Regions from separate parts of the Homo sapiens genome. Here region 1 is linked to region 2. The links come from fine-mapping of genetic effects on gene expression. Tissue or cell type: whole blood. Region 2 holds a variant in brackets; the other region holds the start of a gene. All regions are shown on one strand. Distances are between the middles of the regions. Region 1 holds the start of HIVEP1 (HIVEP zinc finger 1). Region 2 overlaps HIVEP1 (HIVEP zinc finger 1).

What was found.
Region 1: HIVEP1 starts here. The variant in region 2 is fine-mapped to the expression of HIVEP1 in whole blood (INTERVAL, PIP 0.98).

The regions. Positions count from the first base shown.
Region 1 is chr6:12,005,860-12,021,906 of GRCh38, forward strand. HIVEP1 (HIVEP zinc finger 1) reads left to right here and starts at 6,453. Exons shown (of 9, transcript NM_002114.4): 1 at 6,453-6,707; 2 at 9,667-9,809. The coding sequence starts at 9,770. RefSeq lists silencers at 3,311-3,430, 5,378-6,287, 6,468-6,607 and an enhancer at 4,504-5,048.
Region 2 is chr6:12,109,801-12,125,847 of GRCh38, forward strand. HIVEP1 (HIVEP zinc finger 1) reads left to right here. Exons shown (of 9, transcript NM_002114.4): 4 at 10,090-16,047. Among named protein-coding and RNA genes, the nearest start is that of HIVEP1, 110 kb to the left of the region's middle. RefSeq lists enhancers at 4,530-4,579, 9,289-9,338, 9,356-9,650, 9,369-9,478, 9,489-9,598. The variant G/A (reference allele first, on the strand shown) is at 7,522.

The sequences.
Region 1 (16,047 bases), 100 kb before region 2:
TACAATTCTATGTAAATATACTCTTGGTATCTGCTATGAACTGAATTGTCCCCCCAGCATCCCAATTGATATGTTGAAGCCCTAACCCCCAATGTTACTGTATCTGGAGATAGAGTCTTTAGGAGGTAATTAAGGTTAAATTAGGTAATAAGGGTGGGGTACTGATCTAATGGGATTAGCGACCTTAAAAGAAGAGACACCAAAGAGCCAGTGCTCCCTCTCTCTGTATAAGCACTACACCTGGGAAAGGCCATGTGAGGACACAGAGAGAAGGTGGCAGTCTACAAGCCAAGAAGACAGGCCTCGGAGAAAGCCAACCCTGCTGATGCCTTGATCTTGAACTCCCAGCCTCTAGAACTGTGGGACACTGTATTAACTCAGGGCCCACTGGAACAAAAATACCACCTTGTTAGATCACAGATGAGGTTGGGTCATTTTCATTGAATGCTATTCTTCCTCTAGGGTTCCTCAGTATGCCACTTGTGGACATAGCTTATGAGGAATTCTTTCAGGAACTGCAGGTATCAATCACATCTAGTTTTCTTTCCCCTCTTCACAGATAGTACACCAAATAATATCCATTAAACTGTCGTTACTTGCCATTGAAAGAGAGGCTTTTCAATGAGATGTGGTTTGCTCTAATAGCACGTCTCCTACAGGTAACAGTATCAGTACTGGCGTAAATGTGAATTAAATCATCCTTCTAAAAACAAGACATGGTTAAAATCAAACACATTTTCTCTTCTTTTCCTTAAGCCTCACACCATGCCAGGATGCCCATCATTTTCATGACACATCGAAATTTGAAAAACTTTAAAAAATTCCCTTTTCTTATTCTCTCCATTGATGTAGAATATTATAAAGTTATTGAAATCTGGTTTTCACAAAATATAATCTTTAAACTTTGAGCATCTGAATATTTTCTGGATCCCCATCATAGTTCTATCATTTACCAGCTCTGTAGCTTCCGGAAGACTATGTAGCATTTCTAAGCCTCTGTTTCTTCATCTACAGTGTGGGTTTATGGCGGGGACTAAATGAGTTTATATAGGAAAACCCGGCAAGTCGTAAGCGCTCAATAGCTGTTAATCACTACCACTACCATTATTACAACTGCTAATGTTACTGCAGTTTTTGTAACCAGCCTCCATATCGATCCTAAATCCATCAGTAACAATAACTTTCCTTAAAAAGACCATTCTCAGGCCAGATGTCTCCAAATAGCTACCAACTGTTTGTAATATCATGTCTTAATTCCTTCCAAATGATGACTGAGTAGGCTCTTCTCTGGTTGCCTGTTGCCTGCCCATTCTGTCTTCCTAGCTCATTACGAGAGAACCCACCCTTCCCAATGGCCCCGGGGCAATCCAGGTGTACATCTCTCATCTGAGCATGATTTTTTTTTTGAGACGGAGTCTCGCTCTGTGGCCCAGGCTGGAGTGCAGTGGCGTGATCTTGGCTCACTGCAAGCTCCGCCTCCCTGGTTCACGCCATTCTCCTGCCTCAGCCCCCCGAATAGCTGGGAATACAGGCGCCCGTCACCACGCCCAATTAATTTTTCTATTTTTAGTAGAGACAGGGTTTCACTGTGTTAGCCAGGATGGTCTCGATCTCCTGACCTTGTGATCCGCCCCCCTCGGCCTCCCACAGTGCTGGGATTACAAGCGTGAGCCACTGCGCCCGGCCCTGAGTATAATTATTAATACCTTCCCTTTCACTCTCAAGTGTCCTGGCATGGGTGTTACTTGTTTCCCATTTGCTTAGACTTTCTGCTCTCGGTGGAAAAACCATCACACACAGTTCACTTGCTCTCACCTTCAAGTTATTTCCCTCCTCTAGAATGCTGTACTTCCACCACTGCCAAATCGTGAACTTTCTCTCCTTCAATATCCCACTGAGAACTCACCCCCAGGATGGGACTCTGCTCACCCCGTCCTCTACTCAAGCAGAAGCCTCTCAGCGATCATGTAAATAACTGTATAACTTTAATTGGCTCTGTTTATAAGCCTCTTATATCTTTTTTTCCCTCTAGGTATTTTTCCATGTGTTTATCCTGTCTCCATTAATTTGTAATCTTCCAGAGGGCAAGGCCTGAACACAAGCTTCTGTTGGTGTAAAGTGGAGGCACAGGTAAGGCTGATTGCTAGACACTGCCGTCCTTCTTTATTAGTAATCTGTTAAAAAAAAAAAAATTCTTTGTTGTAGTGTTTTGTTAGTGATGGTCCCGAGACTGCTAACCTAATGAAAAACTATATCCAGTGTCTGCTAGTGTCCAGACAAAAGAAAATCAACAGTTACAAGCTTTTCATAACGTGAGGGGAAAGTGTGCGGATATTTTGACCCATAAGGGAATTTATGGTGTATGGAAAGCATGTTATAGAATTTGTTGCCTTTAGATTTTTATTCTTGTCTTTTCAAGGCTGCAGGACTGTCTCAGAAGGGAAATAATATTTACCTTCCAAACTGAGATCTAAAACCCGAACAAAGCCTCAGGAAACATACTCCACCACCATCTTACAAGTTTGTGCTACGGGTGGAGGGAAAATGAATCTAATGTAGGAGGCCTCCCGCTGTGCGTCTAGCAGGAAAGACCATACGGTGCAAGTCTCCAGGATCACTAGAGGGGTGGATTGTTCATTTCAGTCCAGGTAGCAACAGGAAGCCCGTGCAAATGTTCCTCTCTCACTGCGGGGCTAAGGAGTGTGGGTCCTTTCCCGCGACTACCTGCTTGCCTCTCTCAGAACCTGCAAGTGAAGTGCGGAAGATCTGTCTATCTTCTCGGCGGCGCAGAGCCCAAGGTAGAAACCGATGGAGGCGGTGCACTAGATAACATCAAAGCCCCGGGCAGGGGCCAGAAAGGGGGGCACAGGCAGCCCGGGGAATGAAGCGCCTCCCTCTAGCATTTCCTCTCACGCCCACTTCCAACCTAGGAGGCTTTTGGTTTCTGCTTTTTTGTTTTTAAAATTAAAAGTTAAACCCAGGAAGCTTTGGATCAGACTTTTGTGTTGCAGTTCGGGTAAGTTTTTCTCTCGGTTCTTTTGTCTGGCGCCTGGCTTGGGAAGAGCCTGGGCGTGGGGCAGAGTTGGCAGGGCGTGCGGGGAAGGTTTTGTCGCCGGGTTGCCCAGAGGAGGAGGGGATTCGGCCGGTGGATGGGAAAGCCCAGCGCGCGCGGAGGGCGGAGGGCGGAGGGCCGAGGGGAGGGACGAGCGGCGTGACCCGGCGGCCGGCGGGGAGGAACCTCCGGGATCTCCGCGTGGCGGTGGCGGCGGCGGCGGCGGCGGCGGCGCTGCCGGGCCGCGCGCTGGGCGGAGGGCCGGGGCCGCGGGGCCGCGCCAGGGGGGTGCCTGAGCCGGGCCCGGCCGGGCGGCCGCGTGGGAACCCGAGCCGTGGACGCAGCGGCGGGGGCGGGCAGGGTGGCGCGGGGCCCAGTGGACGCGGCTCCGGGGTGGACTTTGTGCCCTCTCCAAACTGTTCGCCAAGAAAAACGTGTGTTGAGCTTTTCAGTGACACTATCCTCCCTCGAACCCCACTTTCCCCAAGGGGGGCTCCAGAAGCGTTCACGCGGACGGTGGGGATGGAACCATAGAGAAATGGACCTCCAGGAGCCCCCTCTTTTTTGGGGGCAGAGAATGGTCACTTGCTCCTGCATTGTCCCAGGATTTTTGACAGTTGAAACTGCAGTTTACCATTCACATTCATCCTCCACATTCACCCTCTGCTTCATTTTTTTCCCACGCTGTGTTTATTTGATACATTTTGAGAAAATATATTGGATTTGCCACAAAACAAGCCTAAAGAAGCTACTTTATAGTATAGCCAGGTTTCCCTGCATCCTGATATCTGGGAAGAATTGTAGGCAGAATTAGGAAAAGAAACTGCATTTAGAAAATTCAAAAACTTACTAGGAAACTATTCTGTATTGTATATATTTCAAATAAAAGTTTAATATCGGTTTGCTGCTCAAGGAAATAGTTGAAATGTCAAAATTTACCTATCGTAATTCGAAATTGCATGTATGTTTTGTTAGAAAGTTCGTAGTAATGCTGAATCCTACATAAACATTGTGTTGACAGTATGTTGTGCTCAACAATTATTGGGTTAAACGTTATTCATTCAGTTAGCATTTTTCACTTCCAAAGTGATACAAACTTCACTCATTATCACATTACCTTTCTCCTGACAGATTAATAGCTATACGTTCACAGTTAAATGCATGTTTACTTTTGGATTCAAATAACCCAGTTGGGAAGTTACATTATATACTTTTTTGGTGATTGCAACCTATTGGATATCATTTCATTTCACAAATGAGAGATGGTTATAGCACAATGAAAATAAAAATTGCATTATTTCATCGTAGGGTTAGCATTAGTATGCTAGACATAATTGTACATGTACACAGTTGGATGATCTTTGCTTTTATAACCAAATTTACTTTGTAGTAGGCATATTTCTCCCTTTACATGATATTATTTTTGGCTACACACTCGCCATTACTGAGTATTCCATTTTTAATCATTCCCATTCTGGTGGTTTGAGCTTTTCTTAGCTCAAATGAGCCAGAGGTACGATTTCCTCAGGGGAATTTTAGGGGTCAACTCCAGCAGGAAAAACCTAGACGTCGTTATGGAAGCCCAAGGGAACAAAACAATTCAAGTTTGCACAGATGGCCAGCTGTCTTAGTGGTTGTATGGTCGTTTAGCATTTTTATTCCTTAAAAGGGGAAACCAGTTTAGTTTCATCAGGGATTTTTTTTTTTTTGCATCAATTTTGTTTCACCTTATTCCTCTCAAGTTTGAGGTGGCCCGTTAAACCAGCCACTTTTGCTTCTTGAGGTGGACCTGTGGAATTTCTGTGCCCCAAACTGCGAACGTTCTTTAGGTCTAACCCTGAAAACCTTCGTTACCCTGGTCCAGCCCCTCTTCACTGCTTTGCCATGGATTTCCACTCCTTGCTTTCTCTACTGCTTTCTAGCAGCCGGGGTCACACCTTGGTTCATGCTAATTACTCCCTCTTCCCCTTTCACGCTCTCCCCTCTTCCCTGGAGCCCGGTCCGACGACCAGCCCCGCACCCCCCTTTTCTGTCCCCGAAGTCCCCTCCCGGGTTGGCCCTATAAGCTGTCAGGCTGGCAGGCAGGGGTTAATTGCGCTCGCAGCTTCGGCACTGGGAAGCACCAGCGGGGCTTTGGAGCGGCCTCTGGAATAACCTTGGCTTTCCTCGCTCTTTTAATAGAACATCCGCCACCAAAAAGTGGTTTCAGTTCAGGGTTAACATGTCCCCTTCCACTCTCCAAACCAACACCCTGCCCCCTCCGTTTTTTTAAAAGTTGTTTTTCAAAGTTAATGAGTTTTAAGTTTCACAATGACTTTCCCCTTCCTTCTACGCGTTGCTGAGGAAACCCCCTTGGGGTCCCCCCCCCCCCCCGCCTCCCCCTCCCCCATTCTGCCCGGGCGAGGGGCGGGGCCGGGAGACCCCATGACGTCAGCGGCCGGCCCACATCCTGCTGTAGAAAGTAAAGAGACGGTAAAGAGAAACTACGGCCCCGCCCGTCCCGTCCCTCTTCCCGGACCAACCGCCCCCAACTGAGCGACCCCGCCAGGCCTTCCCGGGGCCGCGTGACTGGCCGGGCCCGCCCCTCCGCCCCCGCCGTGTGCTGGTTCCCCAGGCGTCGCGACCCAGGGCTCCCGCCCCCCGCGTCCCTAACCCCGCCCCTCCCCCCCGGGCTGCGCTGCCACCTCCTCCCGCGTCCCCCTCCCGTCCCTGCGGCGGCTCGGCCGGGCGGGGCGGGGAGGGGCGAAGCGGCGGGTAGGTGGCGGGGCCGGCGCGGTCTGGGGCCCGCCCCGCCGGGGAGACCCGGGGCACTGGCTCCGGGTTCGTGCCGGGCCGGGCGCCCATCCAGTCCCTACACCCGGTCAGAGCTGGCGGCCGCGCCGGCCCAGCTGGGCCCCGGCGCCTGGGCGTCCCGCGCCCCTCGCCCCGGCCTCAACCCCAGCCCCCGCGGGGACGCCCCCTCCCCCGCCCACGCGTCGCCGCCCGCGGCCTCCCCTCCTCCCGCCCCCGGGGATCCCCTGCCGCCCCGCCCACCCGCGGGAAAGCCTCCGACCTTCGCCCTGCCTCCCCCGCGCCGCCCGGCCCGCGTTCCTCCCGCCGGCCCCAAAGACGCTAAACGTGCCCTACTCTGCCCCGGGGGAGAGGTAAAGCCCGCGCCCGTCCTTCCCGCCCCGGGCCCCGCGGCCCCAGGGTCTGTCCGCCCGCCCCGCCGCGGCGCGCGCCCCCCAGCCCGGCTGCCCGGCTCCCTGGCGGCCGCGATCATGCCGTGGCTCCGGGCGCCGGCGAGCTTCGCCGCCTCCTCCGCCCGGCGGCTGCGGCCCCCGCCCGCGCGCCCCGCGCTCCCCCCCCCGCCCCCCGGCCCGCTCCCCTGTTTAATATTTCAGTGCTGGGTGGTGTGAGCGCCAGTCGCCGGCCTTCAGCGTGGCGGCTGCTGGGCGGCGGCAGGGTGGCGGACGGAGCGGGGGACCGGGGAGCGGCGGCCGCCGGAGGAGGTTATGTTTGTGTTTGGGGTTGTCAAGTGAAGGAGGGATCCCAGGCGCCGCCGCCGCCGCCGCGCGGGGGTCGCGGAGATCCCGAGCCGCGGCCGCCGCCATCAGCAGCGCAGCTCCAGGGCCGGCTGCAGCGGCAGCGGCTCCGCCGGGCGTCCTGGCAGCAGGTTCGGCGCGGGCTCCGCGGCGGGGGCGCTGCAGCTGGGGAGGGCGGCGGGGCGGAGGGGGGGGGGGGCAGGAGCACATCCCTTCGGCGGGCGGGGGGCGTGCGGGCGCGCGTGTGTGTGTGTGTGTGCGTGTGTGTGCAACCGCCGACCTTGCAGAGGGGATGGCTGCGTGCGGGAGACCCTTGGCACTTCTGGGCGCCCTCGCCGCGCGCGAGCCGAGCAGGTACAGAGGGACCCAGCCTCCCCAGCCGCCTTCCAGCCGCAGACGCATTTTGCAAGAGGGTGGGGGGTGAAAGAGACCAGGCCTCGGCATCCCAACCTCCCGGCTTTGTGGGTTTCTTTCCCTTTCGTTCTTTGCTCTAAGTGCCTGTTTACTCCCGGCCACCTGGGTAGTTTCTTTCCGGGTTGGGAGTGCGCGCCAGCTGCAGTTGGGAAGGGGGCGGTGGGTTGGGGTGCGGGTCGGCTCGGGCTCGCCTTGGGGTCGGGCTCGGGAAGGAGTTGCTGGCTGGAGAGGGGAGGGGGCGGCGGCGGAGCAGGCGGCGAGGAGGAGTCTCAGGGCTGCCGCGCTCGCCTCATCTCGTCCTCCTCCTCCTCAGCTCTCTGCATCCACTCCAGGCTCCTTCCTGAGCTGGCACTTCCATTCCCCCCCTCCTCCTGGCATGCGAAGCGCTTTGTTCAGTGCAGCGTTGCAGAGGGGTTTTCCCAGGCTCCGCCCTCCACATTCATTCATGTTTTTTCTCCTTGCAACTGTCTTTACGCTTTTTGATCGTGTCATGTTTTTGCTCCATGTAGTATTTATTTCTTTCCCGTAAAGGAACGGTTTATCACTCGTCCTAGTCGCTACAATGCTGCTGTCTTTGGAAATACCCACTTCCCCCCACAAGGATTTAAATATGGGATGGACAGCTAGGGACAGTGGGTAGGCAATGAACGGGGTAGCAGAAAGCCTTTACGGACAGGGAATGTGCATATTTTACATTTATGCTCCGGATCCCATGGGATCACATGATTGGATTACAGTCAGAGTTCACGCTTTAAAAACTTCCAAATATCGTTACCATTTAAAAGCTTTAAGTTTAACAACGAACGTAGTTAAGCATTCATGCAATTTATTTGGTTCAGCTGTGTCTCAATTCTTTATTGAATCAGAACCTTCCTGAATTAGATAGTGGATGTTTCTTTAGAGCAAGGAGCTGAGAAACCCTATCTTTTATAGATCACTTAGCACAATGCTAGATGAAATACTTAGACCATCATTTTTTTTTGTATTATTTTACCATGTAGTTAAAAATTGCAAATAATTTTGTGCTGAGCTGACATACAGCCAGATCAGGGATAAAATACTGAAGTTAATCGTGGCCTTCTTTACCTTCTGTTTCTTTGCTGTAATGAAACCATAAATTTCTAAAACCTTATACTGGGATGTTAGACACATTCCTTCCCATATAGGCTTTCTTAAGGAGAATTAATAGTTCAGCGTTTTTGTGTGACAGGCAAAGCGTCTACAATGTTTAGTTTAGTCCTTATAACAACCTTCTGATGTGGATAATATTTCCTAATTTTACAGTTGGGAAATCTGATCTTCAGAGAGGTTAAGTAACCTGAACAAGGCCACACAGTAAGGGGTAAAGCCTGGCTTTGAACCCACTCCGGTTTGACACCAAGATAAGTCGTCATGACTTGCTGCGCCTCTTGAAAGAAATCCTGAAAGTAGATGTTATCAGCTCCACAAAATAAGCACTGGATATAACTGAGTCATGCAGTACCACATTCTTTAGTTGTTTATCTTGGACAAGTTACTTATCCAATTTTTTTTTAATCTGTAAAATGAATAAATGATAGCTACCTTCTTAGTTAACAGATTAAATTAGGGAATGTGTAGAAAGTACACAGGCACATAGTAGGTGCTCATAAGTGTTCTCTTGTCTTCTACAGTACCACTAATAACAAAAGCTTTAAGCCTTCCTTACTGTTCTATTCTTGTGTCTTTGCTTAATGACTAAACATTGTTTCATGTTTAACAGTGACAGTGGGCTTTGCTTCTCAGTTTTCTTGCAGTAAGTTAAAATTTCAGCTTTAAGATCCTTGAGAATCTTGTGGAAGAGCCTGAGGTGGCTGATTTGGGGAGATAGGTGATTCGGTTTTGGGTCATTCTTATCTTGGCCTATTATATTTCAGATCACTGTGTTTTAAAATCTGTAAGTCAGGACAGGCTAGGTTGTGCTGCAGTAACAAATAACTCTCAAACCTCACTTATTTAAGCAAACAAAAAGGTGTTTCTGGCGTATGCTGTGTGATCACGTGGGTTAGCCAGAGCTGACTTTGTGGTGGTGTCAGATTTGCTGTCTGGAGCAGTGCTGATCCCATGGCAGAGAGAGAAGAGCTCTGGAGGATCATGCTGTGGTAATAACTAAATGCTCCAGCCTGGAAGTGAAGTCTCATCCGCTCACAGGTCGTTAGCTACAGCTCCTCACACGTTCCTGGGAAACACAGGGAAGCAGAAAGTGTGGTCCTACCATGAACCTAGAGGTCTGGAATAACTGGAGTAGCCACAGTAGCAACCCCTTGTATTAACTGAGTTAACTCTAAAACAAGATGAACAAGACATTGTCCCTGCCCCTATGAATGGGCAGATTTACTATACATGCCTAACATAATCCTTTTGTAGCCTGATGCGATACTTTACTTGTTCCTGGTATTGTTGTTTTAAAACACAAAGTGAGTTTTTTTACTCTTGTCTGATAAAGATACGGTGTTTTTTTTCTGTTTTCTTAATGAGAAGTCCCGATACTGACAAAATGACCTCTGTTTAATTAAAAGTTAGTAATCTTTTGCAGTGGTGCCCAGCTTGGTTACTTTTTCTTGAGTTTAGGTTAGTGCTCTGCTAGGCAGTAACTTTTAAAGTATCTTTCTCCTCTGAAGGTAGTAAAATGTGCTTCTCCGTTTTTTTCTTTTTCAGCACATGGATTAATTGATGTATGTTGAGTTTATGGAGCTGCCTTTTGGTGGCTTGCTTTATCTGCAGTTTTTAAGAAGAAAAAGAAGGCCCTGAGTCAAAGAAGATGCCTCGAACTAAACAAATTCATCCCAGAAATCTAAGAGGTAAAGCATTGCATTAAGTAGAAGTAAGGCTTGCTGTAAATCTTTTAACAAAGTATCTCTTTGGTGACAGGAATGGCCGTTTGTTAGATGTTGACCCTGCCTGGTGAGGAGCGCTATTTCTCTTGCTCATTTCCAGCAGTCCTGCACAATTCCTGTCTCTCAGGAGATACTTAATAAATATCTGTTGAATGAATGAATTGAATTTGACGAAATTACAGTGCATTCCTTCCAAACCATTAGATGGGGTATTAAAGGCTGAAAGTTGCTATTTGTTAATAGGAACCATATTTGGGTCAAGGAATCTGAAAGTAATGGTTAAATATTCTTTGCCAACTGGATCATTAAGAATTTTATGTTTTTTTTTCACTCTTCCTCCATAGTTCTTTTGAGGTTTATTTTTGTACCACTCCATCAGTTAGATTAACAAGATAAGAAGTGAAGAGAATTGTAGGCATTCACTCAGACCATTACTTGCAGAAGTCAGAGGCAAACTGAGTTATTTTCCACGAAGAAGCAGTGGGTCACAAATATATATATGATACACATTTCATGCAAAGACAGAAAAGTGTGTGTTTTCCATCAACCGCGAATACTTTTAATAGTAGAAAAGTAAGTGTATTCTAGCTTATTGTTTAAAAAGATTTGTATTGTTCTCGTGTTATATCAATGGTGAATAGCAATTATCTTTTATATTAAACTTCAGGAGATAAGAATGTAGTAGTGCTAAAAACAAGAACTATTAAAGCAAATAATTCCAAACTGACTATGGTGTTTTATGAAATATTTACCATTACAGAAAAAAAATTCTGAAGCGTATGTAGGGGAGAAGTGACTTAAAAATCAAATAAATTAATTTGAAATGTTTTTTGGTAAAATCAATTTGGCTAGTCACCATAAGGTGATCTTTGAAAATGCAGTCAATTTTATGGCCTCCGTGAATCTGGAAATAGTGCTTGTTTCCTGTCTAGAAATCTCTGTTGCCTCAGGTGGATGCCTCAGCCTAAGTTCAAATTGATGATTGTAGTAACCAGTGTTCAATGAGGTGGAGATTTACATGAGAACAAGTGTGGTGTGTGGAAATCTGATTTTTTATAGTCATATAGAAAACGTTGAAAATTGAATGTGTTTGCCCGTCCCCCTCACTAGAATCTGAACTCCCTAGAGACTCACTCTCATTTGTTACTGTAGGAAAAGCCTCCAGACCCAAGGGTACCAGCTGAGGTGGGCATTTGGAGACATGGGCCCTGCTTTATCTGTCCAGGGAGGGCACCCTGTTCTAGTTTGCACAAGTGCAGCATACAGATGAGCAGCAGCCCTAGCCCAGCACAGTTCCTGGCAGCTAATGGCAGCCCAAATATTTGTTGAAGGAACGAGTGCATGATTGATCTGAAGGTGTTATTTATTAGGCCATAAGTATTAAACATTTTTCATATTTAAAATATATGTTCATAACATTCTAGATAAAATGACTATCCTGAGAAACACAGATTTACAGGCCATAGGCTCTTTTCCTTTCTGTATCAAATAAATGTTCAACTCAGCACATGTTTGTTACTGTGTCTGGAATTGGTGGGTTCTTGGTCTCACTGACTTCAAGAATGAAGCCACAGGCCCTCGCCGTGAGTGTTATAGCTCTTAAAGGTAGCGTGTCCACAGGTTGTTCCTTCTGATGTTCAGATGTGTTTGGAGTTTCTTTCTTCTGGTAGGTTCGTGGTCTCGCTGGTTCAGGAGTGAAGCTGCACACCTTTGCGGTGAGTTTTATAGCTCATAAAGGCAGTACAGACTCAAAGAGCAAGCAGTAGCAAGATTTATTGCAAAGAGCACAACAACAAAGCTTCCACAGTCTGCAAGGGGACCCAAGCAGTTGCAACTGCTGCCTCCGGCAGCCTGCTTTTATTCTCCCGTCTGGCCCCACCCACATCCTGCTGATTGGTCCGTTTTACAGAGAGCCGATTGGTCTGTTTTACAGAGAGCTGATTGGTCCATTTTGACAGGGTGCTGATTGGTGTGTTTACAATCCCTGAGCTAGACACAAAAGTTCTCCAGGTCCCCACTAGATTAGCTAGATACAGAGTGCTGATTGGTGTATTTAAAAACCTTGAGCTAGATAAAGAGTGCTGATTGGTGTATTCACAATCCCTTAGCTAGACATAAAGTTTCTCCAGGTCCCCACTAGACTCAGGAGCCCAGCTGGCTTCACCCAGTGGATCCCGCACTGGGGCCACAGGTGGAGCTGCCTGCGCCTTGTGCCTGCACTACTCAGCCCTTGGGTGGTCGATGGGACTGGGCGCCTAGGAACAGGGGGCAGCGCTCATCGGGGAGGCTGGGGCCGTGCAGGAGCCCATGGCGTGGGGGGTGCTTAGGCATGGCGGGCTGCAGGTCCTGAGCCCTGCCCCACGGGGAAGCAGCTAAAGCCCGGCGAGAAATCGAGCGCAGCACCAGTGGGCCGGCACTGCTGGGGGACCTGGCGCACCCTTCGCGGCTGCTGGCTTGGGTGCTAAGCCCCTCACTGCCCGGGGCCTGCCAAGCCCACGCCAACTGGGAACTCTAGCTGGCCTACAAGCGCCACGCGCGGCCCCCGTTCCTGCCCGCGCTTCTTCCTCCACACCTCCCTGCAAGCTGAGGGAGCCGGCTCTGGCCTGGGCCATCCCAGGAAGGGGATCCCACAGTGCAGCGGCGGGCTGAAGGGCTCCTCAAGCGCGGCCAGAGTGGGCACCAAGGCGGAGGAGGCGCCGAGAGCGAGTGAGGGCTGACAGCACGGTGTCACCTCTCATTACTACCTTCATGTACTTCATGTTCTTATGATAGGGATAAAATGATAAAACACAGGTCTCGAAAGAAGAATGGAGTTGAAGAGCTGATAGGTAAACATGTAACTATGTACTATGGTGAGAAATGAATAGTATGGAGATTCCACAGAGATAGGGAGTCATTATTTTGTCCCCATTGTAGGGGGCGCAGTTTGGGGTGAAGCAGAATGATGATTTAGGGAAGGAAAGTTAACACCTGGATTTGGTTCTTAAGGCTGGGAAGTTATCTGCGAAGCTGACAAGGCAAAGTGAGTGCATTTCATCCTGGGGTAGCAGGTTGTGAAATAACTTGGGGACTCTGAGCAACTTTAAATGGTTCTCTACTTCTAGAGCATAAGAAGTTCTCTTCAGGAGGGATGAGAAGGAGACAGAGAGGCAGGATACTGGAGCAGGAGAATCAGGAGGAATCAGATCAGGAAAGGCCCTCAGATTTAAGCCTACATTTCATATGTAGAGTTAAAAGTTTTAATAAGAAAACTTGCTTCTTTAAGATATTTTTAAAGTTTTCAAAGAGAACTTGGAATAAATTGTGTCTGACTTGTCTGTGAGCGTTTAGGAAGTTGTTTGACTAAGGTAGTTAAGAACTCACAGCCACTAAAGAAAAGATTGGAATAGATTAGCTCTAGTAAGCACACTAAAGCCACCTCAGTGGGACTTCTGATGGGGAAGGGGAAGACTTCAGGGAAGCGGCGGCTTCTGAGCCAGTGTAGCTCACTCAGCAGCGGGGGACGGGAGTGAAGCTCTAGGTCCCCATGGGAAACCCTGAGTAAGCAAAGGGACAGAGGGGTTGGTGCTCGGCGGTGACACCTAGAAACTTCCGCGCTCCTCACAATGTCTGTAAGGACTCGAGCCCTGGGAAGGATGTGGGGGTTAGAGTAAGCAGGTAACCATCAGCTCCTGAGATTAATTTTTGAGCGTATCTTTAATATCTCATTGTGACAGTTTGGAATATCAGGTTTGTTGTGCCCTACCTGTGATCCACTGCTTTGCTTTACTAGAAGACATCTCTAATGCGATGAGATAAGAAATGCGGGGAGAGGAAATTGGGAGACCAGAAGAGGAGTCACAGCCCAGTTTGCCCCTACTGTTTCTGCCGTCAGCTCAGGAGCTTTCAGGAAACCCATCGCCTCTTTTTAGGCTTCCTGGGGGAAATAGTCTGAAATGTTTGTCTTGTGCTTGGTAATCAAGTCCGTATTAAAAGGCAGATACCTGATACTTTCTCAAATTATATTTTTCTTATGCTTCCATGGTAGTTTCACCTCTTAGAATGTAATCTTTCTTTGATTTATTCTTGGTTCTCCTGCTGGGACAGATATATCCCTACGGATGTGCAAAGCCACAGGGTAACATGTATCTTTCAGGAATGTGAATTTTACTTGGGGAAAAATACGTATACTTGTCTGTGTGTGCACACGTATACACATATTAAAGTATTAGGCAAGCATAAAAATGTGCAATACCGGAATCTATCATGGAAGAGTATAGAAAGTTTGCATGGATTTGAAAATTAAGCCTGCATAGACTGCTTTTATAAGGAGATGGAGTATCTACTTCTTTGCTCTTAGAGGTTGTTTACTAGAAAAGGTATAAGAAGAATTGTTAGGTTAAGGGCAGGAAACAAATTGGGGACATAAGTGAGACAGTGTCCGACTTGATGGGTGATCTGTATACTGTGTAGGACTGTGGTTTTGTTGAATTCAGTCTCTTCACCCTTGGCCCAGCGTTAAACCAGATAGAATCAGTTCTCCATGCCTGTTTCCCATCTGCAGGAAACGTGGTGGGTGCCGTTTTGACACCGACCTATCCTTTGTGAGGTTGAAGAATTTTGGAAGAGCATGAGAGCAGCACTTGGTGTTCAGAAGAAAGGCTTAGCATGTTGTCCTGGGTTCCGTGGAGAAGGGTCACTGGACTGCACGGGGTGGCTCTTCCGCATGGTCTTGGTGAGTTGACAGCAGGGCAGCGCTGTGTCTCCCAGCCATCATTCCTTACTCATCGCTGCTCTGTGGAGGGGTTATCTCCACCACCTTCTCAGGCCTTCGCTTGGACCCTTGAGTAACATGGAATGGAGGAGTTGGTGACTTGCAGGGGGTTCCATGCCTCTTCCGTTGTGATAAAGGGCTCTATTCGTGTTTTGCCACTCATTCTTGTGAATGTGTTTCAAAGCTTTGAAAAAAAGGAAAAGAGGTGTTACTTACTTTAGTTGTATTTGGGCCTAGGGTTTCAGAGCTTCATTTCCTTTAAGATTGGAAGTCAGTGTGGAAAATACTAAGTATTAACCTTTTGCAAAACATGTTTTGAAAATTTGGTGTAGCTGTTTTTCATTTTTATTGGTTGAGTTCATTTGGCTCCGAACACTCTGCAAAAAATGAGAACTCTTTTCCTGTCTGAGAACCAGATTTCTTTCTTTCTTTCTTTTTTTTTTTTTTTTTTGAGACGGAGTCTCACTCTGTCACCCAGGCTGGAGTGCAGCGGTGTGATCTTGGCTCACTGCAAGCTCCACCTCCCAGGTTCAAGCCATTCTCCTGCCTCAGCCTCCCAAGTAGCTGGGACTATAGGCGCCTGCCACCACGCACAGCTAATTTTTTTGTATTTTTAGTAGAGACAGGTTTTCACCACGTTGGCCAGGCTGGTCTCAAAACTTCTAACCTCAGGTGATCCAACCGCCTCAAAGTGCTGGGATTACAGGCGTGAGCCACCGCACCCGGCCCAGACTCCTTAAAATGTGAGAAGTAGCACTGAGGAATGTGATCAGATCATGGCCTTGATTGACACATGGGGTCGCTTTCCACGGTTGGCCTTCTTGTTCTCCACGGCATCTTGTGCATAGCCATTTGCCATTTCAGGAGCTCAGCATGCACATCCGGTATTTCTGTGCTTGGTTGTCTTTCTGGAAGTTACTTCTTCTCCTTTTCCATTTCTACTGTTTTCTTACTCTGTATGGGAGATGTCTCTGCTAAAGATTTCACCTCTGAGTTTTTTCCCCCATTTTCTGTTCTCTTGTCAGATATCCTCCTCCCCTCCACAGACATGCCCTGGGTCTCCTTTGCTTGTGTCCACATGTGCCTTCTTGTACTTACAATATTACATCATGATCATTCTTCTCCAGGTCTCTTATCTTAGCGGGATTATAATATGTTAGAAGAGACCATTTTGGTCATCTGTGTGCAACAGAAGAATATTTGGTTGTGTTAACTTTTTGTTTTTGAGACGGAGTTTCACTCTTGTTGTCCAGGCTGGAGTGCAGTAGTGCTGTCTTGGCTCACTGCAACCTCCGCCTCTAGGGTTCAAGCAATTCTCCTGCCTCAGCCTCCGGAGTAGCTGGGATTACAGGCCTGTGCTACCACCCCCGGCTAATTTTGTATTTTTAGTAGAGACTGGGTTTCACCATGTTGGCCAGGCTGGTCTTGAACTCCTAACCTCAAGTGATC
Region 2 (16,047 bases):
GAATAGTGAATCCTTTCAAGAAGGCTTTCAATTTGCTTTGCCCAGCTCCATCAGAGGAATCACTGTCTATGACAGCTATCACCTTATGAAATGAATTTCTTAAATAGTAAGCCTTGAAAGTAAAAATTACTCCTTGATCCGTGGGCTGAAAAATGGACATTGTATTACCAGGCATGAAAACAACATTCATCTTCTTATACATCTCCATCAGAGCTCTTGAATGACAAGGTTTATTCAATGAGCAGTGATATTTTAAAAGAAATCTATTTTTTCTGAGTAGTCACTCTCAATATTGGGCTTAAAATATTCAGTAAACCATGCTATAAACAGATGTGCTGTCATCCAGGCTTTGTTGTTCCATCTGTACAGCACAGGCAGAGTAGATTTAGCATGATTCTTAAGGGTCTTATGGATTTTCAGAATAGTAGATGAGCGTTTGCTTCAACTTAAAGCCACCAGCTGTATTAGCCCTTAGCAAGAGAGTCAGCCTGTCCTTTGAAGCTTTGAAGCCAGGCATTGACTTCTCTCTAGTATGAAAGCCCTGGATGGCATCTTCTTCCAATAGAAGGCTGGTTTATCTACATAGAAAATCTGTTGTTTTCTGTAGCCACCTTCCTCAGTTATCTTAGCAAAATCTTCTGGATAACTTGCTGCAGCTTCTACATTAACACCTGCTGCTTCACCTTGCCCTTTTATGTCATGGAGATGGCCTCTTTCCTTAAATCTCTTGAGCCAACCTCTGCTAGCTGTCAGCCTTTCTTCTGCAGCTTCCTCACTTGTTTCAGCCTTCATAGCATTGAAGAGAGTTAGGGCCTTTCTCTGGGTTAGGCTTTGGCTTAAGGGATGTTGTGGCTGGTTTCATCTTCTGTCCAAACCACTAAAATTTTCTTCATATCAGCAATAAGACTGTTGTGCTTTTTTGTCGTTCAGGTGTTTCCTGGAGTAGCACTTTTAATTTCCTTCAATAACTTTGCCTTTGCATTCACAACTTGGCTTACTGGCTGGTACAAGCATCCTAGCCTTCAGCCTATCTCAGCTTTCAACACGCCTTCTTCAGTAAGCTTAATCATTTCTAGCTTTTGGCTTAAAGCTAGAGACATGCAACTCTTCCTTTCACTTGAACACTTAGAGGCCCTTGTAGGCTTATTAACTGGCATAATTTTAACATTGTTGTGTCTTGGGTAATAGGCAGGTCCAAGGAGAGGCAGAGAGACGGGAATGGCCAGTTGATGGAGCAGTGAGAACACACACACAACATTTATTAAGTTTACTGTGTTACATGGGCACAATTAATGCAGCCCCAAAATAATTACAACAGTAAAAACAAAGATCACTGATCAAAGATCACCATGACAGATATAATAATAATGCAAAAGTTTGAAGTATTGCAAGAATTAGAAAAAATATGTCACACACCAGAAGTGAGTGCATATGTTTGGAGAAATGGTGCCAAGACAGACTTGCTCCATGCAGAGTTGCCACAAACCCTTAATGCAAAAAGCACAGTATCTGCGAAGCTCAACAAAGCAAGGTATACCTGTATTCATTTTCTTTTGCTGCGTAACAAATTCCTACAAACTTAGCAGTTGACACAGTACTTACTGTCTTGTGGTTCTGTAGGTCAGAAGCCTGACACAGGACCTGGCTATAATGATGATGTCAGCAGGTCTGTCTTCTGGAGGCTCCAGGGGAAATTCTGTTTTCCTGCTTATTCAGGTTACTGGCAGAATTTAGTCCTGTAGCTGTAGTCATCATGTTCTTGTGAGCTGTCAGCTGAAGTCCATTCCCAGCTTTTAGAGGCTACCATGTTCTTTGGACGGGAGCTCTCTTTCTCCGTCTTGAAAGCCAGCAATGGCAGGTCAGGTCTCATTTCCTGTCTCTCTCCTGCCTCTTCAGTTGTTCAATACCTCTGACTTCAGCCCTAAGAGATTCTCCATTGTTATGGGATTGTGTAATTAAATTTGAAAGAGTCCTGCAGTAACCGAGGATAATCTCCCCATCTCAAAATACGTAACCATATCACATTTGCAGCGTCCCCTTTGCCACATTCAGAAACATTTACAGGTTCCAGAGGTTGGGGTGTGGCCATTTTATAGGGCCATTATTTCACCCACCATGCTGCCATATTGGACAGTACAACTTTACACTGTATTATCTTTTAAACGGTGAAATTTTGAAGTGATAAAATTCTTAAAGTTCTTTTTATAATTTTATTATTGTCATTTTCAGAGCTCTTCATTTATATGTATAGATCCACATTTAAGTTTTAACATTTCAGTATAGGCCTGAAGACAACGAATTCTCTCAGCTTTTGTTTTTCTGAAAAAAATCTTGCTATGGCCTTCATTTTTGAAAGCTAAATTATTTCTCAATATGAAATTCTGGGTTGGACAATTTTTTTTTCTTTCAGTAGTGTAAAAATATCACACCATGGTTTCCGTTGAGAAGTCTGCTTTAATTTTTATCTTTTATTCTCTGTGTGTAATGTTTTTCTACCCTCTGGCTGCTTTCAGGATTTTCTCTTTATCTTTGGTTTTCAGCAGTTTGAATATATTGTCTAAATTCTTTTTCTCCCTTTTCTTCTTTTTCTCAGTATTTTTTTTATTCTTTATGCTTATTCTTTCGTATCATATTCTTAATCATCCTAGTTATGGGTTATTTAGGCTTTTTGGATGTATGGTTTGTTGTTTTCATTATTTGGGGAAAATTCTTGGCCATTATTTTTTTCATGTATTTCTACTACCCTGTTTATTCTTCCTTTTCCTGCCGGTTCCTTGTGCTTATGGCGGGGACTGGGACTCTGGGGGCTTTTCTCAGTGCTAGTGCCCCTGCTCAGCTTGCAGCCTCCTGCGCCATAGGCTGGGGGAGTCCCTGCCCACCTCCTCACCGCCCCCCTAGCAGTGGGCTGCTGCTGCTTCCCCCACAGGGCTGGGCTTCTGGATGGGGTGGGGAGGGGAGGGTTGCTCCATCTCCTGGTCCAGCCTCAGTCTTGGCGGTCCCTGTGTTTCCAGCCCCTCCCCCATGGCAAGGGACTGAAATTTTATTGGTGTGGGATTTTGGTCTCAGGACAGTTTCCTGCCTCCCCTGGGGTAGAGGGTGTCCTCCTCTGTTCTTCTCCCGGCTGCAGGGTGTTTCTGTCTGTCCCTGTGGTGACATCTGCTGCCCTTTCCCTATCAGCTTAAAGCCCAAGGCTTTGCTCAGGGGGAGGAAGCTCTCAGGGAGAGTTGGCTTCATGCCTGTCCACTCTGCTTACACGCTTGGGGCACTTCTCTGGCCTCGTCCTGCCCCTCATGTGAGCACCTGGTGCGGGCCCATGTTAAAGAGCCTGTAAGTGAGTGTGGACTCCCTCAGCCCATCCTAATTCAAAGGCAGAAGATACACATGTAAACAGGCAAACAGGGCATTCTAGATTATGACTGTAAAGAAGGGTGGGGTGGGCAGGACAGGGACACCGACCTTAGGTAGAGTGGAGGAACAGCCCAGAGGTAACACTGGTGCGGTGAGTTGAAGGTTGAAAATGACCCTGTCATCTTGAGAGTTGGGTGTAGGGAGGGCTTTTCATGCTGAGGAGATGGCAAGTACAAATCCCAGGGGCAGCAACGAGATGGGGCAGTTCGAGGAGGAGAAAGTTTACCGCAGGCTGAAGCGGAGTGAGTCAGGGGAAATGGTGTAGAGGGAGGTTGGAGAGTTGTGAGTCAGATGTCCCTGCAGTCTTTTGGCCATGTTAAGATGCTTGAATTACATTGCATGAGGAATGGGAAGAACTTGGTGATGATCTGAATGTAGCTTCCTTTTGCTTGCTAAGTGAATTCCAGTCTCTTCTGCTTTGTGTTCAAGGCCTAGAGTAACCTGGTTGTAGAATACCTTTTCCATCCTATCTCCCACTCTACTAATAGATGAACAGCAAGGTTGGCTTCCTGCTCTTAGGTGAGTCTTATGCATTTTCCTGCTCACCTTGTCATGCTGTTCCCTAACTGGAAAGGACTTGTCCCTCTCTGCCTGTCTCTGTAGGCTTTAGTCAGATGTGCTGCTGCCACGAAACTTCTCCCAGGCATTTCCTTACCTCCATCTTCACCAGTTGTTCCCACATCTATGTGGTAGCTTCTTGAGTATACCTGTTTATCACACATTATTTGTTTAATTTGTTTAATTAATTTTTAAATTTGTTTTATTTAATTAATTTTTCTGTCTTGTATCTTTATTCTGGTTCTCTCTGCCAACTTTCACTACCTGTTTATAAACACACTCAACCCTCCCATATCCTAAAGAAGACTTCCCTTGCCCTCCTTTCCCCTGACTCTGACGTCTTGTCTTTCTCTTTTACTTTACAGCCATATCCCCAGGAGAGCGCCTGTATTTGCGGGCCCTGCGCGTCCTCATGCCCTCCTTCACTCCTTACTGGTATATGATAGGGTTTTTACCTCCAGAACCCCGCTGACACTGCTTTCAGAGATAATGATGTCTTCCTAGTCCCAGTGACCACCAAGCCCAGGGACCTCTTGTTAATTTTCATCTGTGTATCTGAATGTGATATTCAACACTATTGGCCACATCTTCCTTTTTAAAAGTTTCTAAACCCCCACTTCCTGGCTGTTCCACTATCACATGTTTTGTCTCATCTTTCTGATTTCCCCTTGTTTCTTTTTGTTTCTAGCTCACCCCTAAGTGTAGGGATTACCCATCCTTCTCATGTCAGACCTCCCCTCTCCACAGCATATTCTCTTTGGCTTATCATTTATGTCCTTTTACAAAAACAGCTCTCACCGCATATTCCCAGATCTGTGCCTCTAGCCCAGACCTCTCTCTAGAGGGAAAAAAAAAGAATGTGCACGTACACTTAATGTATCATAATTTTCATATTGCTGTGTAATCTTTGTAATTATTTTAAATGGATGTATAATGTTATGTTAAGTGGCTGTGCCATAATTAGCCTAACCATTTCCTATTGAAAATTTCTTGTCCTGAATTTCCAGCTACAGTTTACAATTCTGTGCATGTATATTGAGTTTGAGATTGATGCCTGAGTTCAGGGTAGCATTTTAACTCTTGCACAAACTACTGAAAAAAGCCTTCTGAATGGCCTCCTGGTCTGATCTCTTGACCTTCTGGCCGAGCATGATCTCAATTGTTAGAAAACAGGTACTACTTATGTTCCTAAGGCCCAAAAGAGATCTGAAGTTTTTCAGCTGACATGTCTCTGAGTAAATCTGAAAAGAGATTTATTTGGAGGTTCACCTTCAATCAAGACAGGATTTTAAGCACACTCTGAGCTGTGGTTTATCATCCCTACTACTTACCATAAGAATATGCTTTACCACACTTTATTGGCAACTAAGATGCACTCTTGAGCCTTTTAATCTGTTTGCTTTTAATCTGTTACTCTCTAGAAGTAATCCTGAAAAACAGCTGACAGTGATATTTCAAACTCGTTGGTGCTCTTCTTCAAAGAAACATAGAAGCCCTAATAAATAGATTTGTGCCTTGGAAAATAAAGTGTCAGTGACTTCACATAGAACACAGGAATCTTAACTTATACTTCCCCAACTATTCTTTTTTTTTTTTTTTTTTTTTTTTTTTAACAAAGTGGCCCCTGTGGTCTTTCTAAGCTGTTCTTGACTCCCTAACTGATGAAGAGTGCTGGCTTTCCTTTCGAAGCCCAGGTCAGTGGTCTGACAGGGGCAGTGCTGCTGATTTTGGTCCCTCTCCTGAGTGTGCTTTGTATCTGTTATATGAAGTCGTGTTTGGATTTTTGATGTGTTGATACCTCAGAGTTTCTGCTTGATTTTCAGTCATTACCGGTAGCACACTGACAAGTGGGAGAATACAGTTTTCAGTGGCTGCCTGACTCCTATTTTGAATCTTTCTCTTCCCTTCCCAATCTGACTGTAAGTTCTCCCTGTGTAAGGAGAGAGGGTTGTGTTTCAATGCTGGTGTACACCAAGTATGTCTAAACTTAGTAATGGTAAAAACAAACATGCAAAATGACAACATTTCTGGAATCAGGGTGGTGAATAGAAGCCAGTGTACTTCCTCTGAGGCAGAGGCTCGCGGGGGGTGCTGGTTGGTGGGGTTGGTGGGGAGTGATCACATTGCATAAGCTCCATGTGAATCCTTGGGCTGCCTTCTACTGCTTGGTCTTTCTCTTTGTGTCCTCTAATGTATTTTATATTTAATTCACCTTAACAACAAATTGCCTTTAAAATGATGGAAAAGCACAAGTGCTAATGGTGAACAGCTGTCTCCTCCTTCTCTTCATACCAATTTTATTTCTGCTTTGAAGCACTATGGTCTATGCATCCTCTTGACTATGTTGTAGATATAGCCACAAGGTTTGATGATTGTGCTCTTTTCTATAGATAAGAGGACAAGAGAAAATAACTCCAGTCACTCTTTAATAGATAGATTTAAAATTAATCAAGATGAGGGTAAGTTTAAAAAACTATTCCAGGTATTTCATTATCTGAAAACCCAAGGGTCTGCTGCCTTCCACTCTAGGGCCTTGGTTCTCGAGAGAAGGTATTTGTCTATAATTCCTAGCCTGATGGTTTAGCTGCCCACTCTGAGCTGTTCAGCCCCAGATCTTGAGAATCAAGGGGTGGAGAGTGAAAAATGTATGGAGAGGCAGGCACCTTGCTTTCACTTCCACCTCTAAAATGATAGTGCAGTATTCTTCTCACATATGCCTGCCATCGTCCTTCTGTTTGCATCTCTCACATCCCCTCCACTAGCCTCTCCCCTCCTTACAATAAAAAAAAAAGTCCTTGAATTTAGACTGATCCAAGGTCCAGGGTCATCTCACTACCTCCTCCCCTCCCAAGCACCAGTGGTAGAGTGGGCTTTATCCCTTGAACAAGGACAGTGAACCTGTTAAAGAAAGAAGATCCAACAAAATCCAGAAGAATGAACACAACTCAAAAAAGACTGTCAGGAGTATGTTCTCAGCTGAGTGCTGAGTGAGATCACCATTCCCCATGATCTCAGGCAGTAGAAGAGCCTTGAGAATGTGGAAGACAGGCCCAAATTCTGCCTTAAAGGAAATATTACTCCAGAAACACAAGTGTTTTTAAGTGCAGAACTAAAGATCATAAATGTATTTAAGCAAGAGTTCAAACTTAATATGAGACAATAAAATGAGATGAAATGGGAAATATGGAACTAAGGGAATAAAATGAGAACAAAATACTATCAGTCCAAAACTAATGAATAAATATGAAACAGTAAAGAATTTAATGGTGTGACAATTCAGTTGTCAACATAAGAGAAAAGCTTTAGAAAATTGTAGAGAAAACAAAAGGTAAAAACCTTTTCCCTAAATAAAAGAACTTTATTCCAAAAAAAGTTGACCAGAAAACGTATATGAAGATATCATAGAAGAAAAGTTTTCTGAGGTGTAAACCAAATTGCCAGAAAACAAGGGAGTATGCAAAGTTTTGAAGGGAATAGCACCAGTCAAGTGTTAAAATTAAATAGATAACTAAGTATAAACAACGATACAGATAAAATGTAAGTGTTATAAGCTTT[G/A]ACAAATGAGAGAGGAGGTCATCTATATGTAAAATCAAAACGTGTAGTTCAAAAGTTCCATTTAACATATGTGTTTTTCCAATTCTTAACTCCCAGTAGATTTATAGAAAATAGTTTCTCTTATAAAGAAATATGGATCTTAAGTTTAGCAATTCCTTTATCTTAACTTCAATGTCATTTTCTTTTAAGTACAAGGTTACAGTTTTTGTTGTTGTTGTTTAAATCACATACAGTATTTCTGGGTTGAAATTTTGCATTTTTCTTTGGAGTATAAGACATTATTTAATTTTGAATAACATAACTTTATCTAAAAATAAAAGTTTATCTTAAAATGTTTGTGAAGCAGAGCAAAACAGGCATACCTACCCTGTCCAAGACTCTGGTTGAATAGGTCCTGGATGGGGCCTGACATGGGTAGATTATTTTTAAGTCCATGGTGTTTCAGCTCTGCTAGCTTCTCATCCAAGTGGTTTCTCATCTCTGTTTTTGTATTTATTTTAATAGCCTCCTGGCTTTCACCTTTATGATACCCACATCTAGCTTTTGGAAGTGGATAGAGAGACTACTCAGCCCAGGTTGATGAGCATCATTTTTCACTTTGCCTACTTGCCTGATAGAGTTAATGAGAGTCAAAAAGTGCATCACTGACTTTCTTACATTCATCTTAATAAGGGAAAACCAGTGGGAAAACATCATTTCATGAGTGAGTGGATTGGAGAATAAAAAAATGTTTGTTCAACATTTTGTAAAAGTGAATAATACTGATACTTTTTTCTATTGTTCTTTAGCTCAAATATTTTAGTTATGAGACCCCCTTTTGTTTTTTTTTTTATTATGGTGGGTAAATATATCTTTAATGGAATAGTATGCATTTTTTTCATTAAACTATGATATGAGAGCATATAAACTGATGTCACAATATTACTAGAATATTTCTAATGTAAATTTTATTCTCAATAAGTAGTTATTACAGTGTAGACATTTTGGTCTAATATGAATTTCAAATATGTACGTTGCAACAGCTATTTGAAAATAGTGGAGAATTAAGTAGTTGGCTTTCTACAAATAGAGTAATATACGATTGAATATTTTTTGTTCATATGCCCAACAATCCAACAAATGGAAACCAAAGTAAATCATGGCAAGTAATTATTGCTCAAAAATACAGTAGTTGATAGATTGTGGGCACTGTCACTTAAATACTGATTTATTTCCAACACAACTAGAAATTAAGGTGATTTCATTTCTCTTGCAATAAGTTTTACCTTCTTTCTGCCTATCTCCCTACCTGCCTACCTGCCCTACCTATTGCTAATGACAAAGAAACATAGCCATTGAATATTTTGTTGAGTTAAAGTGGTGATTTTTTTTAAACCAAGGCCCATTACAACCTTATGACTTTTTAATTTTGTTGGTAAGAAACCACAAATAAGTGGATTATTTTAGTTTCATAATTTTCTGTTCATTGATATAATTGCTACATCAGCAATACTTCATGGCTGTCCTGACTATGGTCTGCTCTAGAAATTATATTAGCAGCCCCTTTTCTCCTGAAAATATCAGTTTTGCATACTTAGAAATTTGCTGAAAAGTTTGTTTTAAAAGAACCTTAATGAGATAAGACAGTCAAATACTCAGCATTAAAGGGTTGAATTTTCTTCTTTTTGGCCAGCCTTCTCAGACTGTTGTGTAGACAGAGTCCTCAGGTATTGCTACCAAGCCAATCTAGGTCCATTTGTCTGCACACAATGAAAAGCCAAACACTGAATCACTGGATTTTTATAGAGAGAAAGATTAATGGCAAGGCAGCCATGCAGGAGATGGGCTCAATTCTGTCTTCCCTTACCAGCTTAAAGCAGTATATAAAAGGAGGAGATGCTGGAGGAGGAGTTTTGGGGTTGGTTAATGATTGTTGGAAAGGGAGGGGAGGTTTGGAAAGTCCCTTGAGCAGGCACAGTTGTCTCTTCGTGCTTCCTCATGGGTTGCCTTTGCAAATTCGGAGGGAGTTGGTGTGAAACCTGTGGTGAAAATACTGGCTTTGATATCAGAAAGTCCCTCATCTGGCAAGAAGTCTATTCTGTGCAGATCCCAATCAGCCATACCAGTTCCAACCAGCTTCAACCAGTCAACCAGTTTTGTTACAAGCAGAGGGAGTTCTAACAAGCTGTTTCTTTATCTGCAGTGCTGTAAGACAAGCTCAAAACTTCTTGTTAGTTACCAGTTTCTTTAACCCCATGGAGCACTGTTTAAGTATGATAGTGAAAAGGGGAAAGATAATTCAGTTTTGAAAGATCTAGTTCCAGGATGTTGATTATTCAAGAAAGGAACATAAGCATTCTAGAAATGCACACTTAGGTCTTTGAATGAGTGTTTCAATAGATTTTGATTGGCATCATTGTTCAATTTCCGGAATGCAGAAGTGCAATTTTATTTAAAAAATAGACTTTCCTTAAATACTTTCTTCACTTGTCATAATGTCCTTATGATAGTAATCTTAATTTTCAAAAAATTATAGTTGGTGTATGTACAATGTTACCAATTGTTTGTTGTTGTTGTTGTTTTTTCCAGAAATCTTACAGGCTGGTGTTAAAGGAACTTCGGAATCCCTTAAAGGTGTGAAACGCAAAAAGATCGTAGCTGAGAATCACCTGAAAAAAATACCAAAATCCCCACTGAGAAATCCTCTTCAGGCAAAACATAAACAAAATACAGAAGAGTCATCTTTCGCCGTTCTTCATAGTGCTTCGGAGTCTCACAAGAAACAGAATTATATTCCTGTAAAAAATGGGAAGCAGTTTACCAAACAAAATGGAGAAACACCTGGAATAATTGCTGAAGCCTCAAAATCTGAAGAATCTGTCTCCCCAAAGAAGCCCTTGTTTCTGCAGCAACCATCTGAACTGCGTAGATGGAGATCCGAAGGCGCTGATCCTGCCAAATTCAGTGACCTCGATGAACAATGTGACTCAAGTTCCTTGTCAAGTAAAACCAGGACTGACAATAGCGAATGCATCTCTTCTCATTGTGGCACTACGTCCCCCTCCTATACAAACACTGCATTCGATGTCTTACTGAAAGCAATGGAGCCAGAACTGAGCACCTTGTCACAAAAGGGCTCACCTTGTGCAATTAAGACAGAAAAACTGAGGCCAAATAAAACTGCACGTTCCCCTCCCAAATTAAAAAACAGTTCAATGGATGCCCCAAATCAGACTTCACAGGAATTGGTTGCTGAATCACAGTCTTCTTGTACCTCATACACAGTCCATATGTCTGCTGCTCAGAAGAATGAGCAAGGGGCAATGCAGTCAGCTTCTCATTTGTATCATCAACATGAACACTTTGTTCCCAAATCCAACCAACATAATCAACAGCTTCCGGGGTGTTCAGGTTTCACAGGATCACTGACAAATCTGCAAAATCAAGAGAATGCCAAACTTGAACAGGTTTATAATATAGCAGTGACATCATCTGTAGGCCTAACTTCACCTTCCAGTAGATCTCAGGTTACTCCTCAAAACCAGCAAATGGATTCTGCTTCACCTTTGTCAATAAGTCCGGCTAATTCTACACAGTCGCCCCCCATGCCAATCTATAATTCAACTCATGTTGCCTCTGTTGTTAATCAAAGCGTAGAGCAAATGTGCAATCTTCTTCTGAAAGATCAGAAGCCAAAAAAACAAGGAAAATATATTTGTGAGTATTGCAATAGAGCATGTGCAAAGCCTAGTGTGCTTTTAAAGCATATCCGCTCCCACACTGGAGAGCGACCCTATCCCTGTGTGACTTGTGGATTTTCATTTAAGACTAAAAGTAATCTGTATAAGCACAAGAAATCCCACGCACATACTATCAAACTGGGTCTTGTCTTGCAACCAGATGCTGGTGGCTTGTTCTTGTCCCACGAGTCCCCCAAAGCACTTAGTATTCATTCAGACGTAGAAGACAGTGGGGAGAGCGAGGAGGAAGGCGCCACTGATGAGAGACAGCATGACCTGGGCGCCATGGAGCTGCAGCCTGTGCACATAATAAAGAGGATGTCAAATGCTGAAACTTTACTAAAATCAAGCTTCACTCCAAGCAGTCCAGAAAATGTGATAGGTGACTTTTTGCTACAGGACAGATCTGCAGAATCACAAGCTGTGACAGAGTTACCGAAAGTTGTGGTCCACCATGTCACTGTGTCCCCCTTAAGAACTGACAGTCCAAAGGCCATGGATCCCAAGCCTGAACTTTCTAGTGCACAAAAGCAGAAGGACCTTCAGGTGACAAACGTACAGCCACTTTCAGCCAACATGTCCCAGGGTGGAGTCTCCAGGTTGGAGACTAATGAGAATTCCCACCAGAAAGGCGACATGAATCCACTGGAAGGAAAGCAAGACTCTCACGTAGGAACGGTACACGCCCAGCTACAAAGGCAGCAGGCTACCGATTACTCCCAAGAGCAGCAAGGAAAGCTCCTGAGTCCTCGAAGTTTAGGAAGTACGGATTCTGGTTACTTTTCACGTTCTGAAAGTGCCGATCAAACAGTGAGTCCACCAACTCCCTTTGCCAGAAGGTTACCCAGCACAGAACAAGACTCTGGAAGGAGTAACGGACCCTCTGCAGCTCTTGTCACCACGTCAACACCCTCTGCTTTGCCCACAGGGGAAAAGGCATTGCTTTTACCAGGTCAGATGCGCCCACCTTTGGCCACAAAAACACTTGAGGAGCGGATATCGAAGCTTATCTCAGACAATGAAGCTTTGGTAGATGACAAGCAACTGGATAGTGTGAAGCCGCGGAGAACCTCACTGTCAAGACGAGGAAGCATTGATTCCCCCAAATCATACATATTTAAAGATTCTTTCCAGTTTGATTTAAAACCAGTGGGACGGAGAACAAGTTCAAGCTCTGATATACCGAAGTCACCTTTCACCCCTACTGAAAAATCAAAGCAAGTGTTTCTTCTGTCTGTACCTTCACTTGACTGTTTACCTATCACAAGAAGTAATTCCATGCCGACCACAGGTTATTCAGCAGTACCTGCAAATATAATACCTCCTCCTCATCCACTAAGAGGAAGTCAGTCATTTGATGACAAAATTGGCGCTTTCTATGATGATGTCTTTGTATCGGGACCTAACGCTCCTGTGCCCCAGAGTGGGCATCCCCGTACACTTGTGAGACAAGCAGCCATAGAAGACTCTTCAGCAAATGAAAGTCATGTTCTTGGTACTGGACAGTCCCTGGATGAGAGCCACCAAGGATGCCATGCTGCTGGTGAAGCCATGTCAGTGAGGAGCAAGGCACTGGCACAAGGCCCACATATAGAAAAAAAGAAGTCTCATCAAGGGCGAGGGACAATGTTTGAGTGTGAAACTTGTAGAAACAGGTATAGGAAACTGGAAAATTTTGAAAATCATAAGAAATTTTACTGTTCTGAGTTACATGGACCAAAAACAAAGGTAGCCATGAGAGAACCTGAGCACAGCCCTGTGCCCGGCGGTCTGCAGCCTCAGATTCTACACTACAGAGTCGCTGGGTCCTCCGGCATCTGGGAACAGACGCCCCAGATAAGAAAAAGGAGGAAAATGAAAAGTGTTGGGGATGATGAAGAACTTCAGCAAAATGAAAGTGGAACATCTCCAAAAAGTTCTGAAGGCCTTCAGTTTCAGAATGCTCTGGGCTGTAATCCCAGTTTGCCTAAACATAATGTTACCATAAGAAGTGACCAGCAGCATAAAAATATACAGTTGCAAAACTCCCATATTCACCTTGTTGCCAGGGGCCCTGAGCAGACCATGGATCCCAAGCTGTCGACCATCATGGAACAACAGATAAGTTCAGCAGCCCAGGACAAGATAGAACTGCAGAGACACGGAACTGGAATCTCTGTCATCCAGCACACCAACTCCCTGAGCAGGCCCAACTCATTTGACAAGCCTGAGCCTTTTGAAAGAGCCTCCCCAGTTTCTTTCCAGGAGCTGAATAGAACGGGGAAGTCCGGGTCTCTAAAAGTGATAGGAATCTCCCAAGAGGAAAGTCACCCTTCTCGGGACGGGTCTCATCCTCACCAGCTTGCACTATCAGACGCTCTCAGAGGAGAACTTCAGGAAAGCTCCAGAAAGAGTCCAAGTGAACGACATGTGTTAGGACAGCCCTCAAGACTTGTCCGGCAGCACAACATCCAAGTTCCAGAGATTTTGGTCACAGAAGAACCAGATCGAGACCTGGAAGCTCAATGCCATGATCAAGAAAAGTCAGAGAAGTTCAGTTGGCCCCAGCGTAGTGAAACCTTGTCAAAATTGCCAACAGAGAAACTGCCACCCAAAAAGAAAAGGCTCCGTCTGGCTGAGATAGAACATTCCTCAACAGAATCGAGCTTTGATTCCACTCTCTCCAGGAGTCTAAGTAGGGAGAGCAGTTTATCTCACACTTCAAGTTTCTCAGCCTCTTTAGACATAGAGGACGTTTCTAAAACGGAGGCTTCCCCCAAAATCGATTTTCTAAATAAAGCCGAGTTTCTTATGATTCCAGCTGGCTTGAATACTCTGAATGTTCCTGGATGTCACCGGGAAATGAGGCGTACTGCATCAGAACAGATTAATTGCACGCAAACGTCAATGGAGGTCTCTGATCTCAGAAGCAAATCATTCGATTGTGGAAGCATCACCCCACCCCAGACAACACCACTTACTGAATTGCAGCCTCCATCTTCACCTTCTCGAGTGGGAGTGACTGGGCATGTGCCTCTCTTAGAAAGAAGGAGAGGCCCACTGGTACGGCAAATATCTTTAAACATAGCCCCAGATAGTCATCTGTCTCCTGTACACCCAACATCTTTCCAAAATACTGCTCTTCCCAGTGTGAATGCAGTGCCATATCAGGGGCCTCAGCTCACTAGTACATCTTTAGCTGAGTTTTCTGCAAATACTTTGCACTCTCAGACTCAGGTTAAGGATCTGCAGGCAGAAACATCAAACTCCAGCTCTACCAACGTTTTTCCTGTTCAACAGCTCTGTGATATCAATTTGTTAAATCAAATCCATGCACCGCCTAGCCACCAGAGCACACAGCTATCTCTGCAAGTGTCTACGCAGGGTAGCAAGCCAGATAAAAATTCTGTTTTATCTGGGTCTTCTAAAAGTGAGGATTGCTTTGCTCCCAAATACCAATTGCATTGTCAGGTTTTCACTTCAGGCCCATCTTGCTCTTCTAATCCTGTGCATTCTTTGCCAAATCAAGTTATTTCAGATCCAGTTGGAACAGATCATTGTGTGACATCAGCAACATTACCAACCAAATTAATTGACAGCATGTCTAATTCGCATCCTCTGCTACCACCAGAGCTCAGGCCCCTTGGAAGTCAGGTGCAGAAGGTGCCATCATCATTCATGCTGCCCATACGCCTGCAGAGTAGTGTTCCTGCTTACTGTTTTGCTACACTCACATCCCTGCCACAAATACTAGTGACCCAAGATCTGCCCAATCAGCCAATTTGCCAGACTAATCATAGTGTAGTGCCAATCAGTGAAGAACAAAATTCTGTGCCAACATTACAAAAAGGTCATCAGAATGCTTTGCCAAACCCAGAGAAGGAATTTCTATGTGAAAATGTTTTTTCAGAGATGAGCCAAAATTCTTCTCTATCAGAATCCTTGCCCATAACTCAGAAAATATCTGTTGGTCGACTTTCCCCTCAACAAGAATCTTCAGCTTCGAGTAAAAGGATGCTTTCCCCAGCAAATAGTTTAGACATTGCCATGGAAAAGCACCAGAAGCGGGCCAAAGATGAAAATGGAGCTGTTTGTGCAACAGACGTGAGACCTTTAGAGGCTTTGAGTTCGAGAGTTAATGAAGCTAGTAAACAGAAGAAGCCTATTTTAGTGAGACAGGTTTGTACTACAGAGCCCCTGGACGGTGTGATGTTGGAAAAGGATGTTTTTTCTCAACCTGAAATTAGTAATGAGGCTGTTAATTTGACAAATGTTTTACCAGCTGATAATTCATCAACAGGATGCTCTAAATTTGTCGTTATAGAACCTATAAGTGAATTGCAGGAATTTGAAAACATCAAGTCATCCACATCATTAACTCTTACAGTTCGAAGTTCACCTGCTCCTTCAGAAAATACTCATATTTCTCCTTTGAAATGTACAGACAATAACCAAGAAAGGAAGTCTCCAGGGGTTAAAAATCAAGGTGACAAAGTGAACATCCAAGAGCAAAGTCAACAGCCAGTCACTTCTCTTTCATTGTTTAACATCAAGGACACCCAGCAGCTGGCTTTCCCTAGCCTGAAAACTACAACCAACTTTACATGGTGTTATCTCTTAAGGCAGAAGTCGTTGCATTTGCCTCAGAAGGACCAGAAAACTTCAGCCTATACTGATTGGACAGTAAGCGCCAGTAATCCAAATCCACTCGGTTTGCCCACAAAAGTTGCACTTGCTCTCCTTAATTCAAAACAGAACACTGGAAAATCACTATACTGTCAAGCAATAACTACCCATTCCAAGTCAGACTTATTGGTCTATTCAAGCA